4 linked regions of the Homo sapiens genome follow. The protein of the gene in region 3 purifies or fractionates together with the protein of the main gene of each other region. This does not show direct contact. Each region holds a gene or a part of one and is shown on either strand. Other genes may lie near its edges.

Region 1 (5,460 bases), on a different chromosome or scaffold from region 3:
AGACCCTGTCAATTTCCAATTTTCTTTAACTTTTGTCTTAGCCTATCATAAAAAGCCCTACAAGTGATTCAAACTGTTGAACCTAAATAAATGCAATAAGGTTTTAGTAACGAAAAGATAAATGATCATCATGACCATATTAAAACACACGAAATCAACTTTAACCACACACTAAATTCATTAAAATAGGCCAATAATTTTCATGACTGGAAACTTCTATATTTATCAAAAAATGATTTTATTTCAGTGCCTAGAGGAACCAGCACTTAAATGGAATTGCTTAATATTTAAATATCAGACAGCTCATCCTGAGTCTTGTCTCAAATATATTTGGTAGCTGAAATTTAAAATAATAAAAACATGAAGAATGAAAACTTTGGACTTACCACCTCAGATTCTGAGCCTATTAAAACATAAAAAGGAAACATTTTCAGGGAACAGTGCATTTTTAAGCAAAGTTATTTGTATGATTTCTATAGCACAAACATACTGATTAAGCAAGCAAATTCTCCGTACCTTTCAACTAAAGAAAAGTGGTTTCATTTTGCATCCTGAATTCATTTTAGACTCCTTAGTAATTTCTTACTGATATACCATACAAGCAAATCCACCCAAATCCCCCTTTCAACATAAGAAGCTATGCAAAAACCAGTGTATCTTTGGAAGTCCACATCTAAGGAAACGTATACTATTTAAAAGAAATTATAAAGATAAAAACAAATTTGTTTAAACCAAAAAAATTTCAGATGTTTACTTCTTTTTAAATTGAAACAAATACCAAGGGAGACCCACATACCATTCTGAGCTTCTTGACACCTTTTAATCCAGACACTGAAATTAGCATCTGCACCTAGAAAGAAAAAACTGACTATAACATCACTCATCTGCACAACCTATAAATCAACAAATACTTACTGAATACCTACTACATCCCAGGCAGTGTTCTAGGCACTGGGGAGTCGGCAGCGAACAAAACCTGTCTTAACAGACCTTATCACCAACTCTACTATAGTTATAAATATACCAATAGTTTAACATTTAGTTGTTAATCATGAAACATTTTGATTTTTTAAAAATTTTAACTACAGTCAACCTTAATTTCACAGATACAAATAATCTGCATTTCCCCCAATCCCGCTGCTCTTAGAGAAGCTTCCTCACACACAGAACAAAATCAGATGTAAATCAGACTCCCAATATGCCATCAGTTAGGGTGGGGAGGAGGCTTGGTAACTGGGAGCTGAGTTGAGGTTCAAAAGCCGTTCCCAGCCCCAGCTTGCTCTTCAATGCAGATACCTATTCAGTCCACTATTCTCTCAGTGGCTTTATCTGTTACCATGCCTTTCCTACCAACACCAAGCATCTTTAAATTCCGTGAAGTTTTGTCCTATCTCCAAGTTACATGGCAGTCGAGAGGCTATAGGTGATGTATTATATATTTATAGATAACAGTGTAAATGTATGCATAAACAAATTATTCACTTCTGGAGACACAGAACAATGATTACATTTAAACAGTCACAGTGCATAGTAAGATATGTTAAAAGTATTAAAAGTACTCTAAATAAGAGCTTATTAATTCAAGTTAACTGCAGACAAGATAAATTTGAAAATCTTAAATTAAAAATTTCTTAACAAAAATTTCTACTTTACTAATTTATAAAAGAAATCCAACTATACCAGCATTAATAAAAAATTTAAATACACTCTCACACACACTGTATTCTAGAGAACTATTGTATCAAAATCTATTATATCAAAAAGATTTGAGTAACCTATTATTTTAAGTAATCAGTAACTAAAACCAAGCAATTTATCACACAAAGAGGGGAAAAGGTAACAATTCTTTACCCTGTCTGATAAAAATAGAAGCCTAAAAGTTTAACTTAACTTTTTCCCAGATTTTGGCCGGGCATGGTGGCTCATACCTGTAATCCCAGCACTTTGGGAGTCCAAGGCAGGTGGATCACTTGAGGTCAAGAGTTGGAGACCAGCCTGGCCAACACGATGAAACCCCGTCTCTACTAAAAATACAAAAATTAGCCAGGCTTGGTGGTGCATGCCTGTAGTCCCAGCTGCTCAGGAGGTTGAGGCAGGAGAATCACCTGAACTTGAGAGACAGAGAACTGCACTATGGCCTGGACAACACAGTGAGACTCAGTCTCAAAAAAAGAAACAAACAAACAAACAAACAAAAACAAAAAAAAACCCCAAAAAACAACAACAAAAAAAGTTTCCTGGATTTAAAGACAAATTTATTTTTAAGTAAAATATCCTCAACAGCAATTTTACCAAACAGGTCTTCCTCTGAAGGCCACCTCTGAAATAACTAAAGAATAAATGTCAATGGCATGATATTAAGATATTACTCAAGAAAATAATCTAGGGGCCAGACGCAGTGGCTCATGCCTGTAACCCCAGCACTTTCAGAGGCCGAGGCAGGCAGAACGCTTGAGTCCAGGAGTTCAAGACCAGCCTGGGCAACATGGCAAATCCCCATCTCTGCAAAAAATAAAATGCAAAAATTAGTCAGGTGTGGTGGCATGTGCCTGTAGCCCCAGTTACTCAGGAGGCTGAGGTGGGAGGATCACTTGAGCCCAAGAGGTGGAGGCTGCAGTGACCCAAGATCGCACCACTGCACTCCAGCCTGGGCGACAGAGCGAGACCTTCTCTCGCTAAAAAAAGAAAGAAAAATGAAAATGTAGAGAATGGTATGACTCATGTTTCTTCAGGATTTTCACATTAGGTACCAAGGCACTACATAACTTCACTCTAGAATTTGCTAAGAGTGCAGATGTCCTGTTTGCTGACTGAATAGGCCTACTATTCACATACCAAAACTGGGATAAGCAAGTTTGAGAATAAGCCTTATCACCCAGACCTCTCCTTTTTTAATTTGTAGCTTCCATTTGCATAATCAGTGCTAAAATCCTTTTTTCTGAATAGGTACACAACAGAAAGGCAAACATTCAAAACAGTACAGAGTAAGAATGTAACATAAAATACTAAGAGTGAAGTTTCTTAATTTCAGCACTACTGACATTTTGGACCATATACTTCTTTGTTAGGCAGAACTGTCCTGGGCATTATAGAATATTTAGTAGCACCCCTGGTTTATACTCATTAGATGTCAGTAGCACAACCCCCATCCACCATTCATGATTATCAAAAATCTCTTCAGACATTGCATAAAGTTTCCTGGGAAGCAAAACCGTTTCCAGTTAAGAACCACTTCTTTAGAGAACTGTGATAAAACTCTATCATAACATAAAGATAAAATGATAATACAAGTAGGATTATGTAGTCTCCAATTTTCTGAAATTACTCACAACCTCTTAGTATTTTTCAGATTTAAAAATTCTTGGCTCTCGGCTGGGTGCAGTGGCTCATGCCTGTAATCCCAGCACTTTGGGAGGCCGAGGAGGGTGGATCACAAGGTCAGGAGATTGAGACCATCCTGGCTAACATGGTGAAACCCCATCTCTACTAAAAATACAAAAAAATTGGCCGGGCGTGGTGGTGGTCGCCTGTAGTCCCAGCTACTCGGGGGGCTGAGGCAGAAGAATGGCGTGAACCCGGGAGGCAGAGCTTGCAGTGAGTCGAGATCGCGCCACTGCACTCCAGCCTGGGCGACAGAGTGAGACTCCGTCTCAAAAAAAAAAAAAAAAAAAAAAAAAAAAAAAATATATATATATATATATATATATATTCTTGACTCTCACAATTTCTATATGTCTAGATATCCACACCACTGTGATACTTTTCATATATTCCCTCAAGAATATAACATTAAAAGTCACAATACTCTCAAAACTGTGTTTCTTCTGTACCCTCTCATAATTTACCCAAACGTACACTTCACTTCTCCATAAAAACCTTTAATGTTAAGATTTCACATCTCAGCAATCTGAATAATTTAAAATGAACAGACTTCTGACCAAGGCAAATTAAACTTTCACTTCTCCATTAGAAAAAAACAAAGCCAGACTAAACAGAGAGAGCATGTTAGGTGTTTCCATAGTTTTTTTTACTTCTAATGGTGAAGTTCATCTATGATTTAAATGCCAAAAGGCTAATTTAATCGATTTTAAGTGATCTCATATCTGCAATCAATATGAAATATAATTTAGATGAGAAAAACAGGTATTGGGTTTCTACAATTAACTTGAAATTAACATTACCAAAATTCAGCTTTGGTATTTAAGACAGAAATAGATAAGTTTATTAAAGTATAATTTTTAATACTTACTATCTAATTTTTGTCCTTCTGTAAAAGTTTCTAGGGCAGCAGCATAGTTTTTTTCATGGTATTCACATATTCTGCATGAATATATTTAAAACAAATTAAGACACACAAAAAATCTGGAAAATACCTTCTTTCTAAATAAAAAACTTAGTATTTTCTACTGTTGAAAGAAAAAATTTATTTTAAGTGTATGTTAATAAACCTAGAGACTTTCTAATATACTGTTAAGATCTAGTACAATTCCTACTAAAATTCAATTTTAGAACTCACTTCAGAAGGAATCTGACTTTAATTGTACAGACTTGCTTACTCAAAAATATAATTATACAAAGGAATTAAAGAAGTTTCTTAAAGAATAGTTATACTTATCAACAGAAACAAGATGGGATATAAAGTATACAGATATAGCGCTTTCATAGCATTAAATGTAGCCTATTCAGCTTTGCTGAATAGGATGTTGTCCAGTCAATTAAATATAGTAAATTCCAAAAGATTGAAAAAAAAAAAAAAAAAAGCAATGTGAAATCTATCAGTTTCATCTATACCTTGCAAATACTTCAATCATCACTATTTTAAAATTTACTAAGTACAGATCTCCTATCACATACTTTGGTTAACAAAATAATAGAACTATAAGTTGTATTTAAAATTGAATCATATCTCTGCTATATAATGTATAAATACAGAATTTTACAACTTATATAAAGCTTGCAATGAACTCATTCAACAAATTAAATACCTACTATCTATACCAAGCTCAACAAGAAGAGTAGCTACTGCATACCCTTTTCTCAGCATAGCAGTGGAATTATTTGGATTGAGTTCTAGAGACTTCTTTGCATCAGCAACAGCAACTGTGTAGAAAAAGACGGGTTTTTAGTCAGTTATTTATAGATCCTAGCAAATACACACAACATATGAATCAGTTTTAGATTTCTAAGTTTTCAAGTTGGTAGAAATGCCAAATGGTTTTAAATTAGGAAAAGCTAATACAAGATAGAATTCAAATAAATATTACTCTTGTACCTTCCTTTTGGCTTAACATTTAGCTTCCTTCTTAAAGCTCTTCAATGAATACAGCTGTGTCACAAAATTCACCTCCTTGTCTCATTAACATTTTCTATGTAATTTTACTCAAGGTATTCAGTTTTTCCCTATTCAGAAGGTACAAAATACAGAAATACATTACTTTTTAAATACAGGTGGTCTTGTTA
Region 2 (5,460 bases), on a different chromosome or scaffold from region 3:
AGCTCGGCAAGGCAGTGATTGAGAAATTCAGCAACTAGGAGACCTGTGTGGAAATTGGCAAAAGTGTACGTGGAAAGGATGTCTACATCATTCAGAGTGGTTGTGGCAAAATCAATGACAATTTAATGGTGCCTTTGATCATGACTAATACCTGCAAGACTGCTTCAGCGAGCCAGCTTACTGCAGTCATCCCATGCTTCCCTTATGCCCAGCAGGATAATAAAGAGTCAGGTGACAATCTCAGCCAAGCTTGTTGCAAACATGCTATCTGTGGCAGGCGCAGATCATATTATCACCATGGACCTACATGCTTCTCAAATTCAGGGCTTTTTTGATAACCCAGTGGACTATCTGTATGCAGAGCCAGGTGTCCTGAAGTGGATAAGGGAGAATATCTCTGAGCAGAAGAACTGCACTATTGTTTCATCTGATGCTGGTGGAGCTAAGAGAGTGACCTCCATTGCAGACAGGCTGAATGTGGACTTTGCCTTGATTCACAAAGAAGGCCAATGAAGTCGACCGCATGGTGCTTGTGGGAGATGTGAAGGATCTGGTGGCCATCCTTGCGGATGACATGGTTGACACTTGTGGCACAATCTGCCATGCAGCTGACAAACTTCTCTCAGCTGGAGTCACCAAAGTTTATGCTATCTTGACTCACAGAATCTTCTCTGGTCCAGCTATTTCTCACATCAACAACGCATGCTTTAAAGCAGTAGTAGTCACCAATAACATACCCCAGGAGGACAAGATGAAGCACCATTCCAAAATACAGGTGATCAACATCTCTATGAGCCTTGCAGAAGCCATCAGGAAAATTCACAATGAAGAATCCGTTTCTTACCTATTCAGTCATGTCCCTTTATAATACAGTAACTTCTGAGGCTTTTTAAGAATAAAATCCACCCCACCCCTTGTTTTCCCTTGGTATTTGATGACGAATTCAGCAGAAGACCCAGCTTGCTCCAGTGTAGCTTTCTATATCCCACATCAGGTATATCTGAGCTTATCCGAAATGAAGAAAGAAGGATTGAGATTAACTGCTGGGACTTCCTATCTGCATTGTCTCATTCTGGCTTCCTTGATGATTCTGTGAGCCTTGCAGCTTTAACTATAGCTCAGCTGTTACAAGATTTCAGACTTTTGAGGATGTTGTGTGGGGGTGTTTGACTGTGACTGGAGAAGCTCAGACTACTCTGCATGTGAATGCTTCAGGGTTTTCTTTGTTGAGAACAACCAGCAGCAAAGCCAACCCATGTGTGAGCAGTTCTCCCCAAGGTCTATGCTAAATTATGGCAAGAGCCCTGGGCAACCCCAAACCTAGTCCCGGTGGCTGAGCACCCTGTAAGGCAGGAGTAGGCAGTTGGGCTTGAGCAGCCATGGGGTAGGGGGTGGGGGGTGGTTGAGGGGGGAGGCAGCACAGCGCAGCAAATGTTTCTTGGGAGGAAGAAGCCTGATCCATCATCATCTGCTTGACTATGTAGCTTGGATTCTCTTTTGTACCTACTCCTTTGATTTGGCTTTACCTTCATCCATCTTGATCCTTTCCTGGCCAAAGATCCTCTTGGGCCCAAATGAACACTGTACCGTAGTCTTCTGGAAAGCAAATGTGCTTCCTGCTATGTAATCGCTAACATTCACATTACATGATTTGCTGTAGCTTGATCTTCCTTAGCCTACTACCACTGTGGCAGTAGGTTTTAGGTGGTATCATAGTGCCTTTTGATTAATTTAAGTATTTAATTTTCATCTTCTTTCTTTGGATCTATTTGGCTTTTCAAATGAACAGAGATTTCTGTTAAAAAGAAAAAAAAGATTTGACGTAGGCTGGGCGCGGTGGCTCACGCCTGTAATCCCAGCACCTTGGGAGACCAAGGTGGGCAGATGACCTGAGGTCAGGAGTTCAAGACCAGCCTCACCAACATGGTGAAACCCCGTCTCTACTAAAAATACAAAATTAGCCAGGCGTGGTGGTGTACACCTGTAATCCCAGCTACTCGGGAGGCTGAGACAGGAGAATCGCTTGAATCCAGGAGGCAGAGGTTGCAGTGAGCCGAGATTGCACCATTGTACTCCAGCCTGGGCAACATGAGCGAAACTCTTGTCTCAAAAAAAAAAAGATTCATGTTATTGTCTCTTGTAGAGGAAACTAATAAAGTGTCTGTATCTGTGTGATTTGAGGTCTTTGAGAAAAAAAAAAAAAAGTATTGCCTATCTTGGTCTTGCCATTTTGTTACTTAACTACAGTACTTGAAAGGAAAGGGGCTGGCCGGGTGCGGTGGCTCACACCTATAATCCCAGCACTTTGGGAGGCTGAGGCGGGTGGATCACCTGAGGTCAGGAGTTCAAGACCAGCCTAGCCAACACGGTGAAATCCCATCTCTACTAAGAATACAAAAATTAGCCAGGCATGGTGGCGCACACCTGTGGTCCCAGCTACTCAGGAGGCTGAGGCAGGAGAATGGCTTGAACCTGGGAGGCAGAGGTTGTTGCAGTGAGCCAAGATCACGCCACTGCACTCCAGCCTAGGCGACAGAGCAAGACTCCATCTCAAAAACAAAAAAAAAAGGAAAGAACATTTACTTTATACATTATTACCAAATGGATGCTGGAGTAGGTGCTTTCACTGTGTCATCTTATTTAACCATTAAAGAAAGACATACGTTAATAACTAAACTAGAAATTTAATATCCACAGCCACCATATTTTGAGTAAGCTAGACTACAAGTTTGTTATCTAGGGCCACCATAGTTCTCTATGCAGCCCATTAGCAATCCACAAATTACATTTCCAAAAATGTTGGCTTTACCTCATTTGTGACCTTTGCTCCAAAAAGCCAACCTGCTCCTCGGGGACTGATAGCCCAGGTATCCACATCTTCAGGATCTGACCAAACCAGATCACAAAATGCTCCTTTATGAGGAATTTCCTGATTCCGTTCGATGGTTCGAATTTGATCCAGTGTTTTGATATCAGGAGATAAACCACCATGGACACACAAAATCTGCTCATCTATTAACTAGCAAAAAAGGATAACAAAGAGTTGAACATATAACCTCAGGCATATCTAAACTCATCAGTGAATACTAAAGATATCAATATAATTGAGATGACAACTAGATAAAAATATGCAATGTGTTATTGGCAGGAACGTACATGAGACTTTAAAAATAGAAACTTACAGCTGCTACTGTGAGCATGTCAAAAACTTTGGTACAGTATCTCCAGGCATTAGCATTTCCATATTTGGTTTGGCACTCATCTGTGAAAGAAACAGAAGGGTTTTAATTAATGAATCTGCTAATAAAAATAAACAATATATCCAATACTAGAGCAGCCTTCAGTACAACAGAAATTCAGCTTAAACTAGGATAGCAAGATATGACACATATTTAGTCCTGCTAGGACCTCCACATAGAGCCAAAAGAACGCTAGTGACTAACTACATACAGTTGTATGTCCCTTAACCATGGGGATACATTCTAAAAAATGCATTGTTAGGTGATTTCATCGTTGTGTGAACATCATCGGATGTCCTTACATAAACCTAGATGGTCTAGCCTACTACACACCTAGGCAATATGATATAGCCTATTGCTCATAGGCTATAAATTTGTGCAGCATGTAACTGTACTAAATATCATAAGGAAATAGTAACACAATGGTAAGTATTTGTGCAATAGGAATTTTTCAGCTCCGTTTTATCTATGGGACCACTGTCATATATACAGTCCATCATCGACTGAAATGTCATTATGTGGCACATGACTGTATTTCCTAAGGATGTAGTACTGCTCTTCATTCCTGGAATGGACCTAAGAAGCAGCTGAAATTATTAGCCAAAATGCTATCATTAGAAGAGTTAAATACTAATTTCACACAACCTGAAGCAAATGTTTTAACAGTTATGTTAATATTAGGCAATTCTGGTAAGCAGATAAATTTATTTAAGGAGACAATTCTAGCAGGATAAACAGATCAAACAAATTAGAGGATCCTTAGTTATAGGAGCATGAGCAATTCCTAACTCTTCTCAGGGCTAAGTTGTCTCTTCTGAGATTTTCTGCAAATCGTGCGACTAAACACTTGAGCTTCAGTGGATCAAAACTGAGGACAGATTGCCAATCAGGTTCTTACAAATTCTCAGTTGAACACTCTTTCTGCTGCCTACGTAGTTTTTTGTTTTTGAGACAAGGTCTCACTCTATTGCCCAAGTTGGAATACAGTGGCACAATCAGCAGTGGCGCGATCACAGCTCACTGCAACCTCAACCACTTGGGTTCAAGCGATCCCACCACCTCAGCCTTCTGAACAGCTGGAACTACAGGCAAGTGCCACCACACCTGGCTAATTTTATTTCTGGTAGAGATGGGGATCTCCCTATGTTGTCCAGGCTGGTCTTGAACTCCTGAGCTCAAGCAATCCTCCTACCTCAGCCTCCCACAGTGCTGAGAATACAGATGTGAGCCACTGTACCCTGACTGTCTACATAGTTAATAGGGTACACACTTCTTTTGTTAACACCATGGAAGCTCTGTACTTTGGCTTCTTCCATAATTTTAGAAAAAAAAAAACCTGACATATCACTATTGCCTTAAGTGAAGCTGAAAATGATATAGGAAAGAAGTCTGCAGGTTATGACCAATCCCCAAGATTTTCTCAATTATATATCTACGTGAAGCAAGATTGTTATGTAAACTTGCCATAAGAGAGCCCTAACAATGAGCTCAGGTTGCAGGCAGGGATCTTGAACTTGGCTCAATAGTAACTGCCCAGTATGTGTTTATCAGTGTGAACTGAAGTCCCAGTGTAAAGTCATATAGGGATATTTTATTCCTTGAAAATCAATATAAGTCCTATAATAACTAAAATTATCTTATTCAAAACATATGTCATATGGCTGGACGCAGTGCCTCATGCCTGTAATCCCAGCACTTTGGGAGGCCGAGGCGGGCGGATCACAAGGTCAGGAGATTGAGACCATCCTGGCTAACACGGTGAAACCCTGTCTCTACTAAAAAATACAAAAAAATTAGCCGGGCATGGTGGCGGGCGCCTGTAGTCCCAGCTACTTGGGAGGCGGAGGCAGGAGAATGGCGTGAACCCAGTAGGCAGAGCTTGCAGTGAGCGAAGATCGCACCACTGCACTCCAGCCTGGGTGACAGAGCGAGACTCCGTCTCAAAAAAAAAAAAAAAAAAAAGTCATATATTAGCCATATATAACAATATGTATTTTATATATTATACATGTAGCATTAGTTACATATATATAGTAGGTGTGTGTGTTTTTATAACATTAGTTTTAGTACTGTTTTCACTGAGCTAATATCATAGTATGTTATCCAAAATATTGATTATTTTGCAAAAGAATCCAAAAGTTGTATTTCAATTGGTGTTTATTTTGTGAATGAAAATAAAAAGTCACCTGTAGAAAGGAGATAAATATTACCTAACTTTACA
Region 3 (6,036 bases):
AAATTGTAAAATGCTATACTCACATAAGATAGATGGTATCTACTCAAAATGCAGACAAAACCCTCTCATTTCAACTCTAAGAGTAAGCCAGCAATGAGCTCTCTAGGGCACAGAGGGGAGAAAAATCTCCCTCTGGTCTATGTCCAGATTGTCTTGGAAGAATAGGCTGAATACTCATTGCATGAGCTGGCTTTGAATGCAGACCGAAGATACTATCAAATTGGTCTAATGGACATGTGGCCAATGCCACAAAAGAACTGTGTGTAGAAAAATCCTTAATCTGTTGAAGAAATAACTTCCTTTTCCTCTTTCTTAACCTTCACAAATGTTTATTTCCTGCACAATCCTGATACTAATTTGTGCTAATTTCTCCCCTTTGAGGAGGGAAAACAAGGGGCAGGAAAGGGAATGAAGATTCACCAAAACATGCTGAAACACATATAACATTTTCCTTTCAATACAACCTACTGGGGTAGAAAAATAAGTCTAGGATGTAACACATATGTTCACATTGCTATGACCATTTTACAGATAGAAAACTGAGGCTAAGAGAGACTAAATAACTTATTAAAGGCCAACTTATTCAAAACCACAAAGCAAACATTTCACTCTGGGTCTGAGTGATAACAAAAGCCCTTGTATTTTCCACAACAAAAACATACCTTCATCATTTAAAAAAAAGGTTAGAAGGATAAACAGCTAAGAAGAACCAACTCCTATTTTTAGCTCTTTTTTTTTGAGCTCTATCATTAGATTTTCGTACTGTGTAAAATTTCCATTAAATTTTTAATGTAAAACACCAGTTCCTCAATCTTTCATTATTTAGTGCTACAGGGCTCAAACCGCTTCTGATTACAAGTACAAACAATAATAATTGCAAAATGCCCGAAAATTTTCAAGAAAAAGCACAAAATCACAAAACAAAACAAAACAAAACTGAAAAGACCTTATGAGCAATGTGTTCAAACCACCACAATTTATAAATAAGGAAATTAAGGCTCAGATAGGTTAAGTGACTTGCTGAGGGTCACACAACTTGTCAGTTCCAGACTCAAGATCAGAATTTAGATCTCCAAACTCATAGTCCAGGGCTGTGCTCTTTTTGCAAACCAAAAAGAAATGACTGCACTTAAATATTTAGTCCAGAATATCCTCAAAATTGACTGTAATAAAAGTTAGCCACATGGCAAGGAATGAATAGAGTTGCTTCATACCAAAAATGAGCTGCCAGTCACAGTGATAAGATTTCTTTCTTTCTGAGAACCATGGTTTCCTGCTGCATTGGGGAATCCAAACTGGGTTTCTCCCTCCTGTCCAAAGAAGTCAGAGTTAGGATGTACGCTCCACTCCGCTTTGGCTGGTGTCAGTAGTTCTGAGACACTGTTTTCACAAAGGGTGCTCGAAGGAGTCAGAGTATCTGTGTCCACTGTTAGCTTACTGCTGGGTGTCAAAGCCTGAGGCTCTGGACTGGAGTTTTTCATGGCCAAAGAGTCCAGAGATCCCAATGGCCCCACACTTACACTTGAGACCTCATCCATATTTAAGGAGCTCTGCTGAAAACCAGTGGCCGCCGTTCCAAAAAAGAGAGAGGTATCCAGACTTTGAGGAGGGTCGCTGGTGGCCATCAAGGACGGAGGGTCCACAGCCTGCCCTACGGAATTATTATTATTAGCAGGGAGGTGCCCTGCCAGAGTCGAGCTCACAGAAGCCACATCAATAGTCAAGATTCCAGAGTTCACCAATGCTGTGTCCAGCAATGCAGCAGAAGTACTGTCAGGTACATCAGAGAAGAGAGACACTATCTCTGCATCACTGAGATCATTCTGTCTCTGGCTGGTAAGTTCACTGCTGGGTGTAAGAGAATTTGCTGCTTCTAGCTGAGCTAAGAGATCCTGGCCCACCTTATGCCTTTTAACCATGTGCGTCTTCATGCTGTGCTTGGATGTGAAGAGTTTATTACAAGAGGAGATCGGGCAACGGCTTTTCCAAGTGTCCACATCCTGCAGGTGTTTCTTGGAGTGAATGTAGAGGCTACTGCGAGCAGAGAACCTGGCACAGCAGCCTGCCACAGGACACACGAAAGGCTTTGTGCCCAGGTGGGTAATGCTGTGGCCTTTCAGATGTTCGGCCCTCGTGAAAGATTTCCCACAGCCTTCCACAGGGCACATGAACCTCCGGTCATCGTCGTGCTTCCTTTTGTGCCTTAAGAGTTTGGACATGCTGGTGAAGTTCCAGCCACAGCCATCAAAGTCACAAAGGAAAGGTCTCTCGCCGGTGTGACTCCGCAGGTGAATTTTCAGCCTACAAGCCTTGTCATATTGCTTGCTGCAGCCAGGGAAAGAGCAGGAAAACAGTTCCTGTTCCCTGAAATGGGCGCGGTTATGGGAAAACAGAGCACTCACTGTGATAAATGTCTTCTTGCAGCCAGAAAACGCGCACTGGTAAGGCCTCTCGGGTTCGAAGTGGCTGCGCTGGTGGGCGCCGAGTTTGGCCTGCGTGGGGAAGCTCTCCTCGCACACCTCACATTTGAACGAGTTCTCCTGCTCATGGCCCTTCATGTGCGCCTTGAGGTTGTACACGGTGGTGAAGCTCTTGCCACAGCCCTCCGCAGGGCAGCCGAAGGGCCGCAGTTTATCGTGCGACTGCAGGTGCCTCTTGAGCTTGTAAGAGGTGGTGAAGGTCCAGCCGCAGCCACCCAGGGGGCATTTGAAGGGCCTCTGGCCCTGGCTGCTGCTGTGCGTCAGCAGGTGCATCTTCAGCTGGTGCTTCTTGGCGAAGGTTTGCCCGCACAGCGCCTCGGGGCACAGGTACAGCACCACGCCTGGACCAGAGCCCAGCAGTCCGCGGGGGCCCAGGGCGGCGGCCAGGCCCTCCGCCTCCTCCTGGGGCGCCGGAGCAGGCGCGGGTTCTGCGGGCTCGGCTAGCAGGAGGTCGGACCGCAGCTCTGGGCAGTCACCCGGGTGCGCGGCTTGCGGGAACCCAGCTTGGGGGGCGATCAGACACCTGGGCTGCTGGGCAGGAGCGGCCCCTGGCTCCCAGGCGTGTGGTGGGGGCGTGGCCAGGGTGAGGACGCCGTTCTCAAAGCGCAACAGCAGGTCCTGGTTGTGGATAGTGACTGTGCCCGCGAAGGCCGCGGCGGGGCCGGGGGCGGAGATCGGGGCCGGAGTGGGAACCGCGGACAGGCAGTGGGGGCCCTGCGCAGAGCAGCCCGCGGGGTTCGCGCCGCTCTCGTCCCCCTGGAGCCCCGGGCCCGCCTTGGCCTCCTCCCTCAACACAGGCCCTGCGGCCTGACCGGAGCCCGCGGTCTCCACGTCGCCACCCACCGGGTCAAGCAGCACCAGGAAGAAGTCGTCGCCGCCGCCGCTAGGTTGATGGGGCCTCGGCGCGAACAGGCTTGGGCCAGGGCCCCGTGATGCCGTGCTGGCCTCCTCGCGCCGCCGCCCGGGCCCGCCATCTTGGGGGCCCCGGGGCAGCAGGAGGCGGCGCGTGGGGACCTGGCCAGCCGGCGAGTCAGGGCCTCGGTGGACTCGGCCGCCACCCGCGGGGATACCGCCGCCGCCGCCGCCCTGTAGTGTCCCGCGAGCCGGGAGCAGCTTCGGGATTTCCATCTCTGCGTCCGAGAGGCTCGGCTGGAACCAGAGCCGAGGAGGAGGCGCGATCCCGCCCCCTGCCGCGGGCCTGAACACGTTCCTGAAAGGGGAAAAAAAAATGTGCAATGCGCAGAAACTGGCCCTATCAGATATTAAAATGTATTCAACGCCACAGTGATTTAAATATTCTGGTACTGGGTCTCTGGAACGGAATAGAAAGCCCAGAGGTAGAGCCTGGTATGCATAAATATATTCTACAATTAATATAAGTAATTAAGGAGGTCTTCTGAAGTAATGGGGAAATGACGACATCTTGTTCAATAATGCTGTGGAACACCTAGGTATCTATCTGGTAAAAGCAATTTTAATCCGTGACTCATTGTATATACCCAAATAAACACACGCCAGCCCCTCCCAGTGTTAGACATGTTGCTTCATACTTTTTGTGTGTTAAAATTTGTTTATTGGCTGGCTACCTGGCTGGATTGATGGATGAAAGACAATTCCTGAGAGAAAAAACTGTCTCTGTGTCAGCATTAAACCACCATAGTGCTGGCATTTCTGCGGAAATTGCCCTTCCCCTTCCCACCTCTGCGCGGGACAACTTCCATACTCACAATTGTCTTGAGCAAAGTGCTCGGTACAATTTGCCACATAGTTCAATTTTTGTCTGCTGATAACAGAGATTAGAATGAGTGAGAGATGCGGCCAAAACAGATTAGCACTCTTCAGCCTACAAATGCAAAGTCTGGAGGATGAAACAATTTATACTGAAATCTGGAAAAAAACCCAACCCGCCCCTGGCTTCTCCCTATACAGTGCACAACCTAAACCAACTCTTTGCCCTTCGACGATCGGTTGTACCATGATAAACTTCATGTCCACTCTCATAGCACAATGAGGGCATTGCTCAGTTTATTCTGCATTCTCCAGCACATTCTCTGGGCAGGAGTTCCAGTTAAATGTGTTAAGGTTAAACCCTCAGTCACTCAATGGACTCTGCCAAGTAATGTGCACAGACGATCTTGTCCACTCGCCCCGGTGTACCTGCTCACATTTAAGTGTGGTGGCCCAGTCTTGCTGGGCCTTTGGTGCCTAATGTCCTTATTAATGATGACGACAATCCTCCAATTTGTCTGTCACGAATGAGTTTGGAATTGACACAAATATAGGGTGAAATATCTGAGATGAGAAGGCTTAGAGTGATGAACAGATTGGTGGTGGTGGGGGTGGGGGGGTGTAACCTGTTGTTTAAATACTCCCAGCTCTCTCGCCCTCTTTTAATAACAGTGGACACTTGGTCTCTTGAAAATCAAGTTTTTCAACCATAACTATTCGAACCTCATCAAAATTTCTACTCCACATACTTTTCTTTCTATTACTTTTTCTGGAGGAAGCACTTTTCAAATCTGAAATTAGAAGAGTGCATATAACGTATCTGTATAGTTTAGATTATTTTACAAAAGCAGACACCTACTTAACCAGGACCAAGGTCAAGCAATAGACCACTGCCAACCTCCCAGAATACAGCTGCTGTACTCCTTCCAGTCACAAACCACACTCTCCTATATAGATATAGTAATTGCTCCGACTTTGTAATAATCATTTCACTGCTTTCCTTTATAGCTTTATCACTTTTGTACGCATCCCTAAACAATAGAGTTGATATGAAGTTGTATAAGTGGAATCATACGGCATGCTTCCTTTTATAGCTTGCTTTTTTCACTCTGTATTATACTTGAGAGACTCGTCCATGTTGTTCATAATAGCTATAAGTAAGTAGATCCTTTGTCTCCATCGACTGTCTTTCCAGCATATGCTTATAGCAAAGTGATTATTGTATGATTATTCCACTCCATTCTACAGCAGATGGAGATTAGGATTGCTTCTACTTTTCAATGATTATTGTGAACATTCTTGCACATTTCTAATGGGACACGTGTAAAAATCTCTCTAGGGTATATATCCAAGAATAGAATCACAGGGCCATAGGGAATGGATATCCTCAGCTTTACTAGATGATGCCAAATTGTTCTCTGTAGTGATTGGGAGAGTTGTCAATCCCACCAGCAGCATAGAGAGTCCTTACTGATCCACATGTTCACCTACACCAAGTATTGCCCGAATTTAAATTTTGCCGGTCTACTGGTGGGCAATATCCAAATTACTATTAAGCTTTAGCACATTTTTGTGTTAATGAGCCTTTTGGAGTTTCTATTTTGAGGAAGGCCTATTCAAATTTACCTCTTTTAACCCACGTTTCTATTTTATTGTTCATCTGATACTGACTTAATGAGTCTGTTAAATATTTTAAATACTCTTCCACACCTGCGGCCAAAATACTCCCTTGCTCTGTTTGTATATTCACTTGCTTTGTGCTCCGGTTTGTGAACAGAAGCTATTAATTATAATATAGTCAATTTCATCATTCTTTTCCTGATGGTTA
Region 4 (5,460 bases), on a different chromosome or scaffold from region 3:
TTCAAAGTGGTTGTATGAATTTATATTCTGACCATCAGTGTATGAAAGGTCCTGTTGCTTCACATCCTAGCCAACATTACTGTTTTTATCTTTTTCATATTAGTCACGAGTAGGCATAGTCATTTTAGTGCTTGAATATCACACTGTAGTTTCAATTTGCATTTCCCTAACGATTAGTAAACTTTTATCGTTTTTTCATGTTTATTGGCTTCTTGTGTGCAAACTTTTCTATTCAAGTCTTCTCCCATTTTTTCTATTGAGTTGCCTGCCTTTTTCTTATTCATTCCAGGAGTCCTTTATATCTTCCCAATACCCAGTATCTGTATTGCAAACAGCTTCTCCCATTCTGTAGCTTGGTTTTTCACTCTCTCTCTCTCTTTTTTTTTTGAGACAGAGTCTCACTCTCTCACCCAGGCTGGAGTGCAGTGGTGCGATCTAGGCTCACTGCATGCTCTGCCTCCCAGGTTCACGCCATTCTCCTGCCTCAGCCTCCCGAGTAGCTGGGACTACAGGTGCCCGCCACCACGACGGGCTAATTTTTTGTATTTTTAAGTAGAGACGGGGTTTCACCACGTTAGCCAGGATGGTCTCGATCTGCTGACCTCATGATCCGCCCGCCTCGGCCTCCCAAAGTGCTGGGATTACAGGCGTGGGCCACTGCGCCCGGCCGGTTTTTCACTCTCTCAATCATGCCTTTTGATGGACAAAAAAAAAAAAATTTTAATTTTAATTTGGTACAATTTATCAATATTTTCTTTATGGTAAATGCTTTTTGGTGTCCTGTTTAAGATGTCTTTGTGTACTCAAGGTCAACAAGACATTCTTCTAAGTTATTTTTTTAAATTTCATTTCAAAATTGTTCTCATCTGAATCTATGACCCATCTAGAATAAATTTTTGTGTGAGGTATGTTGACTTCTTGAGTAAAATACAAGGCAGGGTCACCCTTAAAAACTGATTAGAGAAGAAAAGTCTCTGTTTTTCTTTTAGGACCTTTATACAAACTCAGCTTTTAGCACCTCTCTACAGGTCTTCTCTCTAGTGAATACACCAGTAGCCTTCTTTTCGTTTTTGACTTTTATCTTGTTAACTATCGCCATCAATCAAAATACTGTTGGTTTTAAGGGGTTGTTTCATCCCACTGGCTAAATGTAATAAAGTACACTTATACCACACTTGACTGACAAAATGTCTAGAAATGTAGTGTTTACTCTTCATTATATTTCAACAGTATTAACTATAATGTCTGTTTGTTAACAATGGTACTTGATGACTTTCCATTTTATTTTAGAGAGCCAAAGTTAAGTTTTTGGTTTCCAACTATTAATCATCCATTTTGCTAAACCACTATTTTTTTTCTGCAATGAGATGTTTAACACAAAGCACATTCTGTTACGTATTATTTATCTATAGTTAAGTATACACAGAACAACTTTTTTCTTTTAAATATCATCATCTGATGGGTAAATCAATATCCAAGTAATATGTATAAAAGTATTTTTTATATTATAAAGTATTATGTGATAGAGATTAACATTATTAATGCCTAAATTTTTTTTGGAAGCCTCGGCTGTACAAGTTGTAAAACATCACCAAAGAACGCTAGAAATCCCTGTTAACATTTCTAAGAAAGATTCCATACATAAGAGGAGGTATTATTAGCTACATAAAAGTCAAAACAAGCCAGAAAACATGTCTTATCACTCTACTGTCTATTTTAAGAAAGTTTAATGTGCACCAAAAGAAAATGAATACTAGCTATGCTCATGGTTACTTACTGTCCATCAAATACAACAAAGAAAGCAGTTACTGACGAGCATTTTCTTTTTAAAGACTTGCCAGGGAAGTTAAATAAAAGCTTAATGATTATTTTAAGTTGATTTTTAAAAAATATTTAGTAATTAAAGAAAATGAATACCTGATCTCCAACTGTCTTCAACAACATGTTGGATAAGACCTCCAAGGAAAGGAACTCGAACCATTTCTAAGTGTTCCAAGTTTCGGGCAGAGGCTAAGCCTGTTACTAAAGGGACATATTTCAAGGAATTTGTGGGTCCTGGAAAAAAAAAAAAATCTTTGATAGAACAATGTAAAGTGCCTTAAAATGAATTTCAAATCAGTGAAAGACATGTATAACTTATAAACTCTAAGTCTTAAAATGACAGCCAAATTGGCTCTCTGAAATCAGGTTCTTGTTACAAATGAAAGTGTTAGCCTATTAACCATACACTTACTCAGCATAAAGGTTTTTCAGTAACACTGTAGAGATATGTAGTATTCCGTAAATTCTCTAAAGGCTCAATAGTTTTGAACTCAAACTAACTAATGGGAAAAAGTCAAGATAAAAATTTGATCCTTCACTCAAGTAAACAGCTCAATCATTTAATCATCTCTATGACCAGTGTTGCATTAGCTACTATAGAAGATCACAAAAGATATGGTCCTGTCCATCAAAAAACCTGCAGTTGACATGGAGCTAGAACTAACATAAGTAATTATAGAAGGATAAGAAGGCAGACTGCATCAAGTGTAAAAATAAGATCTGCCATACTCCATGAAAAAGAAAAAGAAAGAGGAGAAAAGTAAGTTGGAAAAGGCAGAACCTGAAGAACGCATACAAAAACAGAGGAAGAAAGTGCACATCTCAGGATAACGAAACAATAATACAGCATAAGAGAAGACATTGAGATGGAAAGCTGTATGGCTGACCAGGGAACAATGAATAGTCAAATGTGATGATAAAAGAAGATATATCTTGGAAAGGTGTCAGAATAAGGTTATCAAGAGGGGTCCTGGTTATCATGACCTTAAGCAGAGTAGTTCCCACTTAATGCTCTAGTGCAGCGGTGTCCAATATTTTGACATCACTGGGCCACACTGGAAGAGGAAAAATTGCCTTGGGCCACATTGGAAGAGGAAAAATTGTCTTGATATTAAAGATAGCTGATGAGCAGGAAAGAAAAAGAAGAAGAAGAAGAAAAAGCCTATGCATAAATCTCATAATGTTTTAAGAAAGTTTAAGAATTTGTATTGGGCATCATGTGGGCTGTGGCCAGTGGACCGTGGGTTGAACAAGCTTGCTCTAGGGCAACAGGGACACTAAAGATTTCTGTTTAGAAGGATAATACCATAAAAGCTATGTTTAAGGGAGATTAAGGAAGCCAACTATTTACATGCAGAATGATTCGGAGACCAGAAACAAAGTAAGAAGACTGAAATTTAATAAAACAATCCTAGGAAAAGTAAAAAGTACCCGTAAAAAATAGAGATATTCTGAGTTTTGTTTTTTTTTTTTTGCTGAGGTCAAACACAAATCATCTTTCTAATGTCTTTAAAACAAAAAGTACATTTATCTTCACAAGATGAATATGTTATAAGACATAAATAGTAATAGCATAATATAATTGTATTTACAAATGTAGCTAGAGTTTGCTTCAGGATATTTTTAGAATAACTTATGTTTAATTCCACCATAATTGTGTACCATTACCTGCACAGTTCCTCATGACGAAAGTTCTTAAGCTGATACAAAGGAAGTCTTTAAATGGCTGTGGTTTAGTGAGTCTTACCCACTTCATATAAAGGTGCCTTAGCATTGGGATACAAGGAATTTCAGGAACATTCACCCCTAAAACACAAATATAAAAAAGAACAAACAAGAAAAAAATCACAAAAATATACTATATTTTGCTTATAAGTTCAAGAGTCTATTTTTCATATTAACAGCTTAACCTTCAAGGATTTTTATCCGAACAAATTATACAAAATCTATCAAGTTTGCCTTATTTAAAACAGGCTTACAAAGAACAGTTTACGTAAACCATAAACTGACTTAACTTTTTTAGGAAAGGCCAATGGGAAGATAGAGTTTAAAAAGTATTTCTATGTCTTAGACATGTAAGTCTTTCTCATAATCTTACAACTCTTCTAGGATACGTTTTCCCAGAAGAGGTAAAGTGAAAATGGATTACTGAAAGCAAAACTATAACGATGGAGATGGAACACACAAATTTACTATTTGACTACCAACATCCACTGCCCCCTAGTAGGAGAACTATATTTCTCAGAGCAAAGTCAGCTAGATGGGTTTAAATATGCAAATAGATATCTGGAAGATAGCCAAACACAGAACTTTAAAAGCTGTTTTCTATAAATATATGAATCTTAAGAATTTGTAAATGTGTGGGAGAAGCCAGCCAGCATGGCTCTGAGAAAAGCAGAAACCTGCCAGTCATTTATTTTAGAATTTCAAATTGGTAAAGGTAATTTGATGCATGGGATCCAGGAGTGGCTTAATACTAGGAATCATATCCACAGAGGACCATGACCAGAAGAAGGGAGGTGTAGCGTGAGGTGAAAAAATACAGGAAATATGGATGAAAGAAGATAAAAGCCAAGGAAGGGACACAAATTTATTAAAGAAATCCAAGGATCCAGGATGATGGCATTTAACAAACAGTAGTTGGCAAAACTGTTTAATGCAATTTTTAAATTTGAGACAATAGGAGCTCTGCTAGCAAGAATAACTAGAGAATGTAAAATTGCAGTACTTGAATGGTCAGTTGTTTATAAAGGCTAAATTCTACCAAATGTTCTTATTGTAACCTACAAGGATTACCCCTTAACTTGTTCCTCTCAAAATAGCAGAGTTAAATTTAGTTTGAACTATGCACACACATTGTATAGCAACAAATGGGAAGTAAAATTAAGGATGAGACAAAAGGACAAAAAGCAGAAGTGAGGTACAGATTGAGATGTAAGATGCAGAAGTCACAAAGGTTAAATTTAGCATATATTGTAATACTATGAAGATGGTAGTACTGATTGTACTGATTAGGAAACCCAAGGAAGAAGGGTGAGACAGATGCAGAGAAGACAGTATACCCCAGGCCCAAACCACTTTCTGTCTCAAACAAACTCTATAAACAAAGGACATAACTGCCCATTCTCCTGGTAATGTTTATTTTTATTAATTTACCACACCTCTGCATCACCATAATACAGTGTTAAACTGTTAAATGATTCCCATAAATTAATGCATTTTAATAAAACTTACCCTGTACTTATATTTGCAATGAACTGTGACAGGCATTGTAGAAAATATAAAGATATGGAAATAAGTCTTTGACCTTAAGGAGCTTATATTATAAATTCCAGATATTACAGAATCCTTTTACATCTAAAAATCCAATTTCAAACTAGATATCACTCCCTGATCTTATAAATGAAGGGTTGCTAGAAATCTTTACTCTTCTCCCATAATTGTGTATCTAAGTCTTATTTAAGACCTACTCCTTATCATTCCTGATGCTCTCCCTGTACCACCTGAGTTTCAGAAATTTCCACTTCTTTAGACCATCCCCAATACCTAGAATAATGCTTAAAACACATATACTCTCTCTCTCTCTGTGTATGTGTGTGTATATATACAGAATAAAGTAGTAAACAAATATTAAAGGCC

The links.
Region 1: the proteins of ZXDA (region 3) and SUGT1 purify together in Homo sapiens (affinity purification with mass spectrometry, with the first as the bait; one large-scale study listed by BioGRID). This does not show direct contact.
Region 2: the proteins of ZXDA (region 3) and PPP6C purify together in Homo sapiens (affinity purification with mass spectrometry, with the first as the bait; one large-scale study listed by BioGRID). This does not show direct contact.
Region 4: the proteins of ZXDA (region 3) and FBXO38 purify together in Homo sapiens (affinity purification with western blotting; one study listed by BioGRID). This does not show direct contact.

The regions. Positions count from the first base shown.
Region 1 is NC_000013.11:52,658,039-52,663,498, reverse strand, and holds part of SUGT1 (protein SGT1 homolog), read right to left. Parts: intron 5,401-5,460; exon of another isoform or gene 5,292-5,400; coding exon of another isoform or gene 5,273-5,291; intron 5,101-5,272; coding exon 5,031-5,100; intron 4,321-5,030; coding exon 4,250-4,320; intron 2,025-4,249; coding exon of another isoform or gene 1,929-2,024; intron 851-1,928; coding exon 797-850; intron 404-796; coding exon 387-403; intron 1-386. UniProt on the Homo sapiens protein: May play a role in ubiquitination and subsequent proteasomal degradation of target proteins.
Region 2 is NC_000009.12:125,150,724-125,156,183, forward strand, and holds part of PPP6C (serine/threonine-protein phosphatase 6 catalytic subunit), read right to left. Parts: intron 3,263-5,460; coding exon 3,183-3,262; intron 3,020-3,182; coding exon 2,810-3,019; intron 1-2,809.
Region 3 is NC_000023.11:57,906,813-57,912,848, forward strand, and holds the start of ZXDA (zinc finger X-linked protein ZXDA), read right to left. Parts: upstream 3,647-6,036; 5' UTR 3,609-3,646; coding exon 1,209-3,608; 3' UTR 1-1,208. UniProt on the Homo sapiens protein: Cooperates with CIITA to promote transcription of MHC class I and MHC class II genes.
Region 4 is NC_000005.10:148,402,852-148,408,311, reverse strand, and holds part of FBXO38 (F-box only protein 38), read right to left. Parts: intron 3,628-5,460; coding exon 3,490-3,627; intron 2,056-3,489; coding exon 1,918-2,055; intron 1-1,917. UniProt on the Homo sapiens protein: Substrate recognition component of a SCF (SKP1-CUL1-F-box protein) E3 ubiquitin-protein ligase complex which mediates the ubiquitination and subsequent proteasomal degradation of PDCD1/PD-1, thereby regulating T-cells-mediated immunity.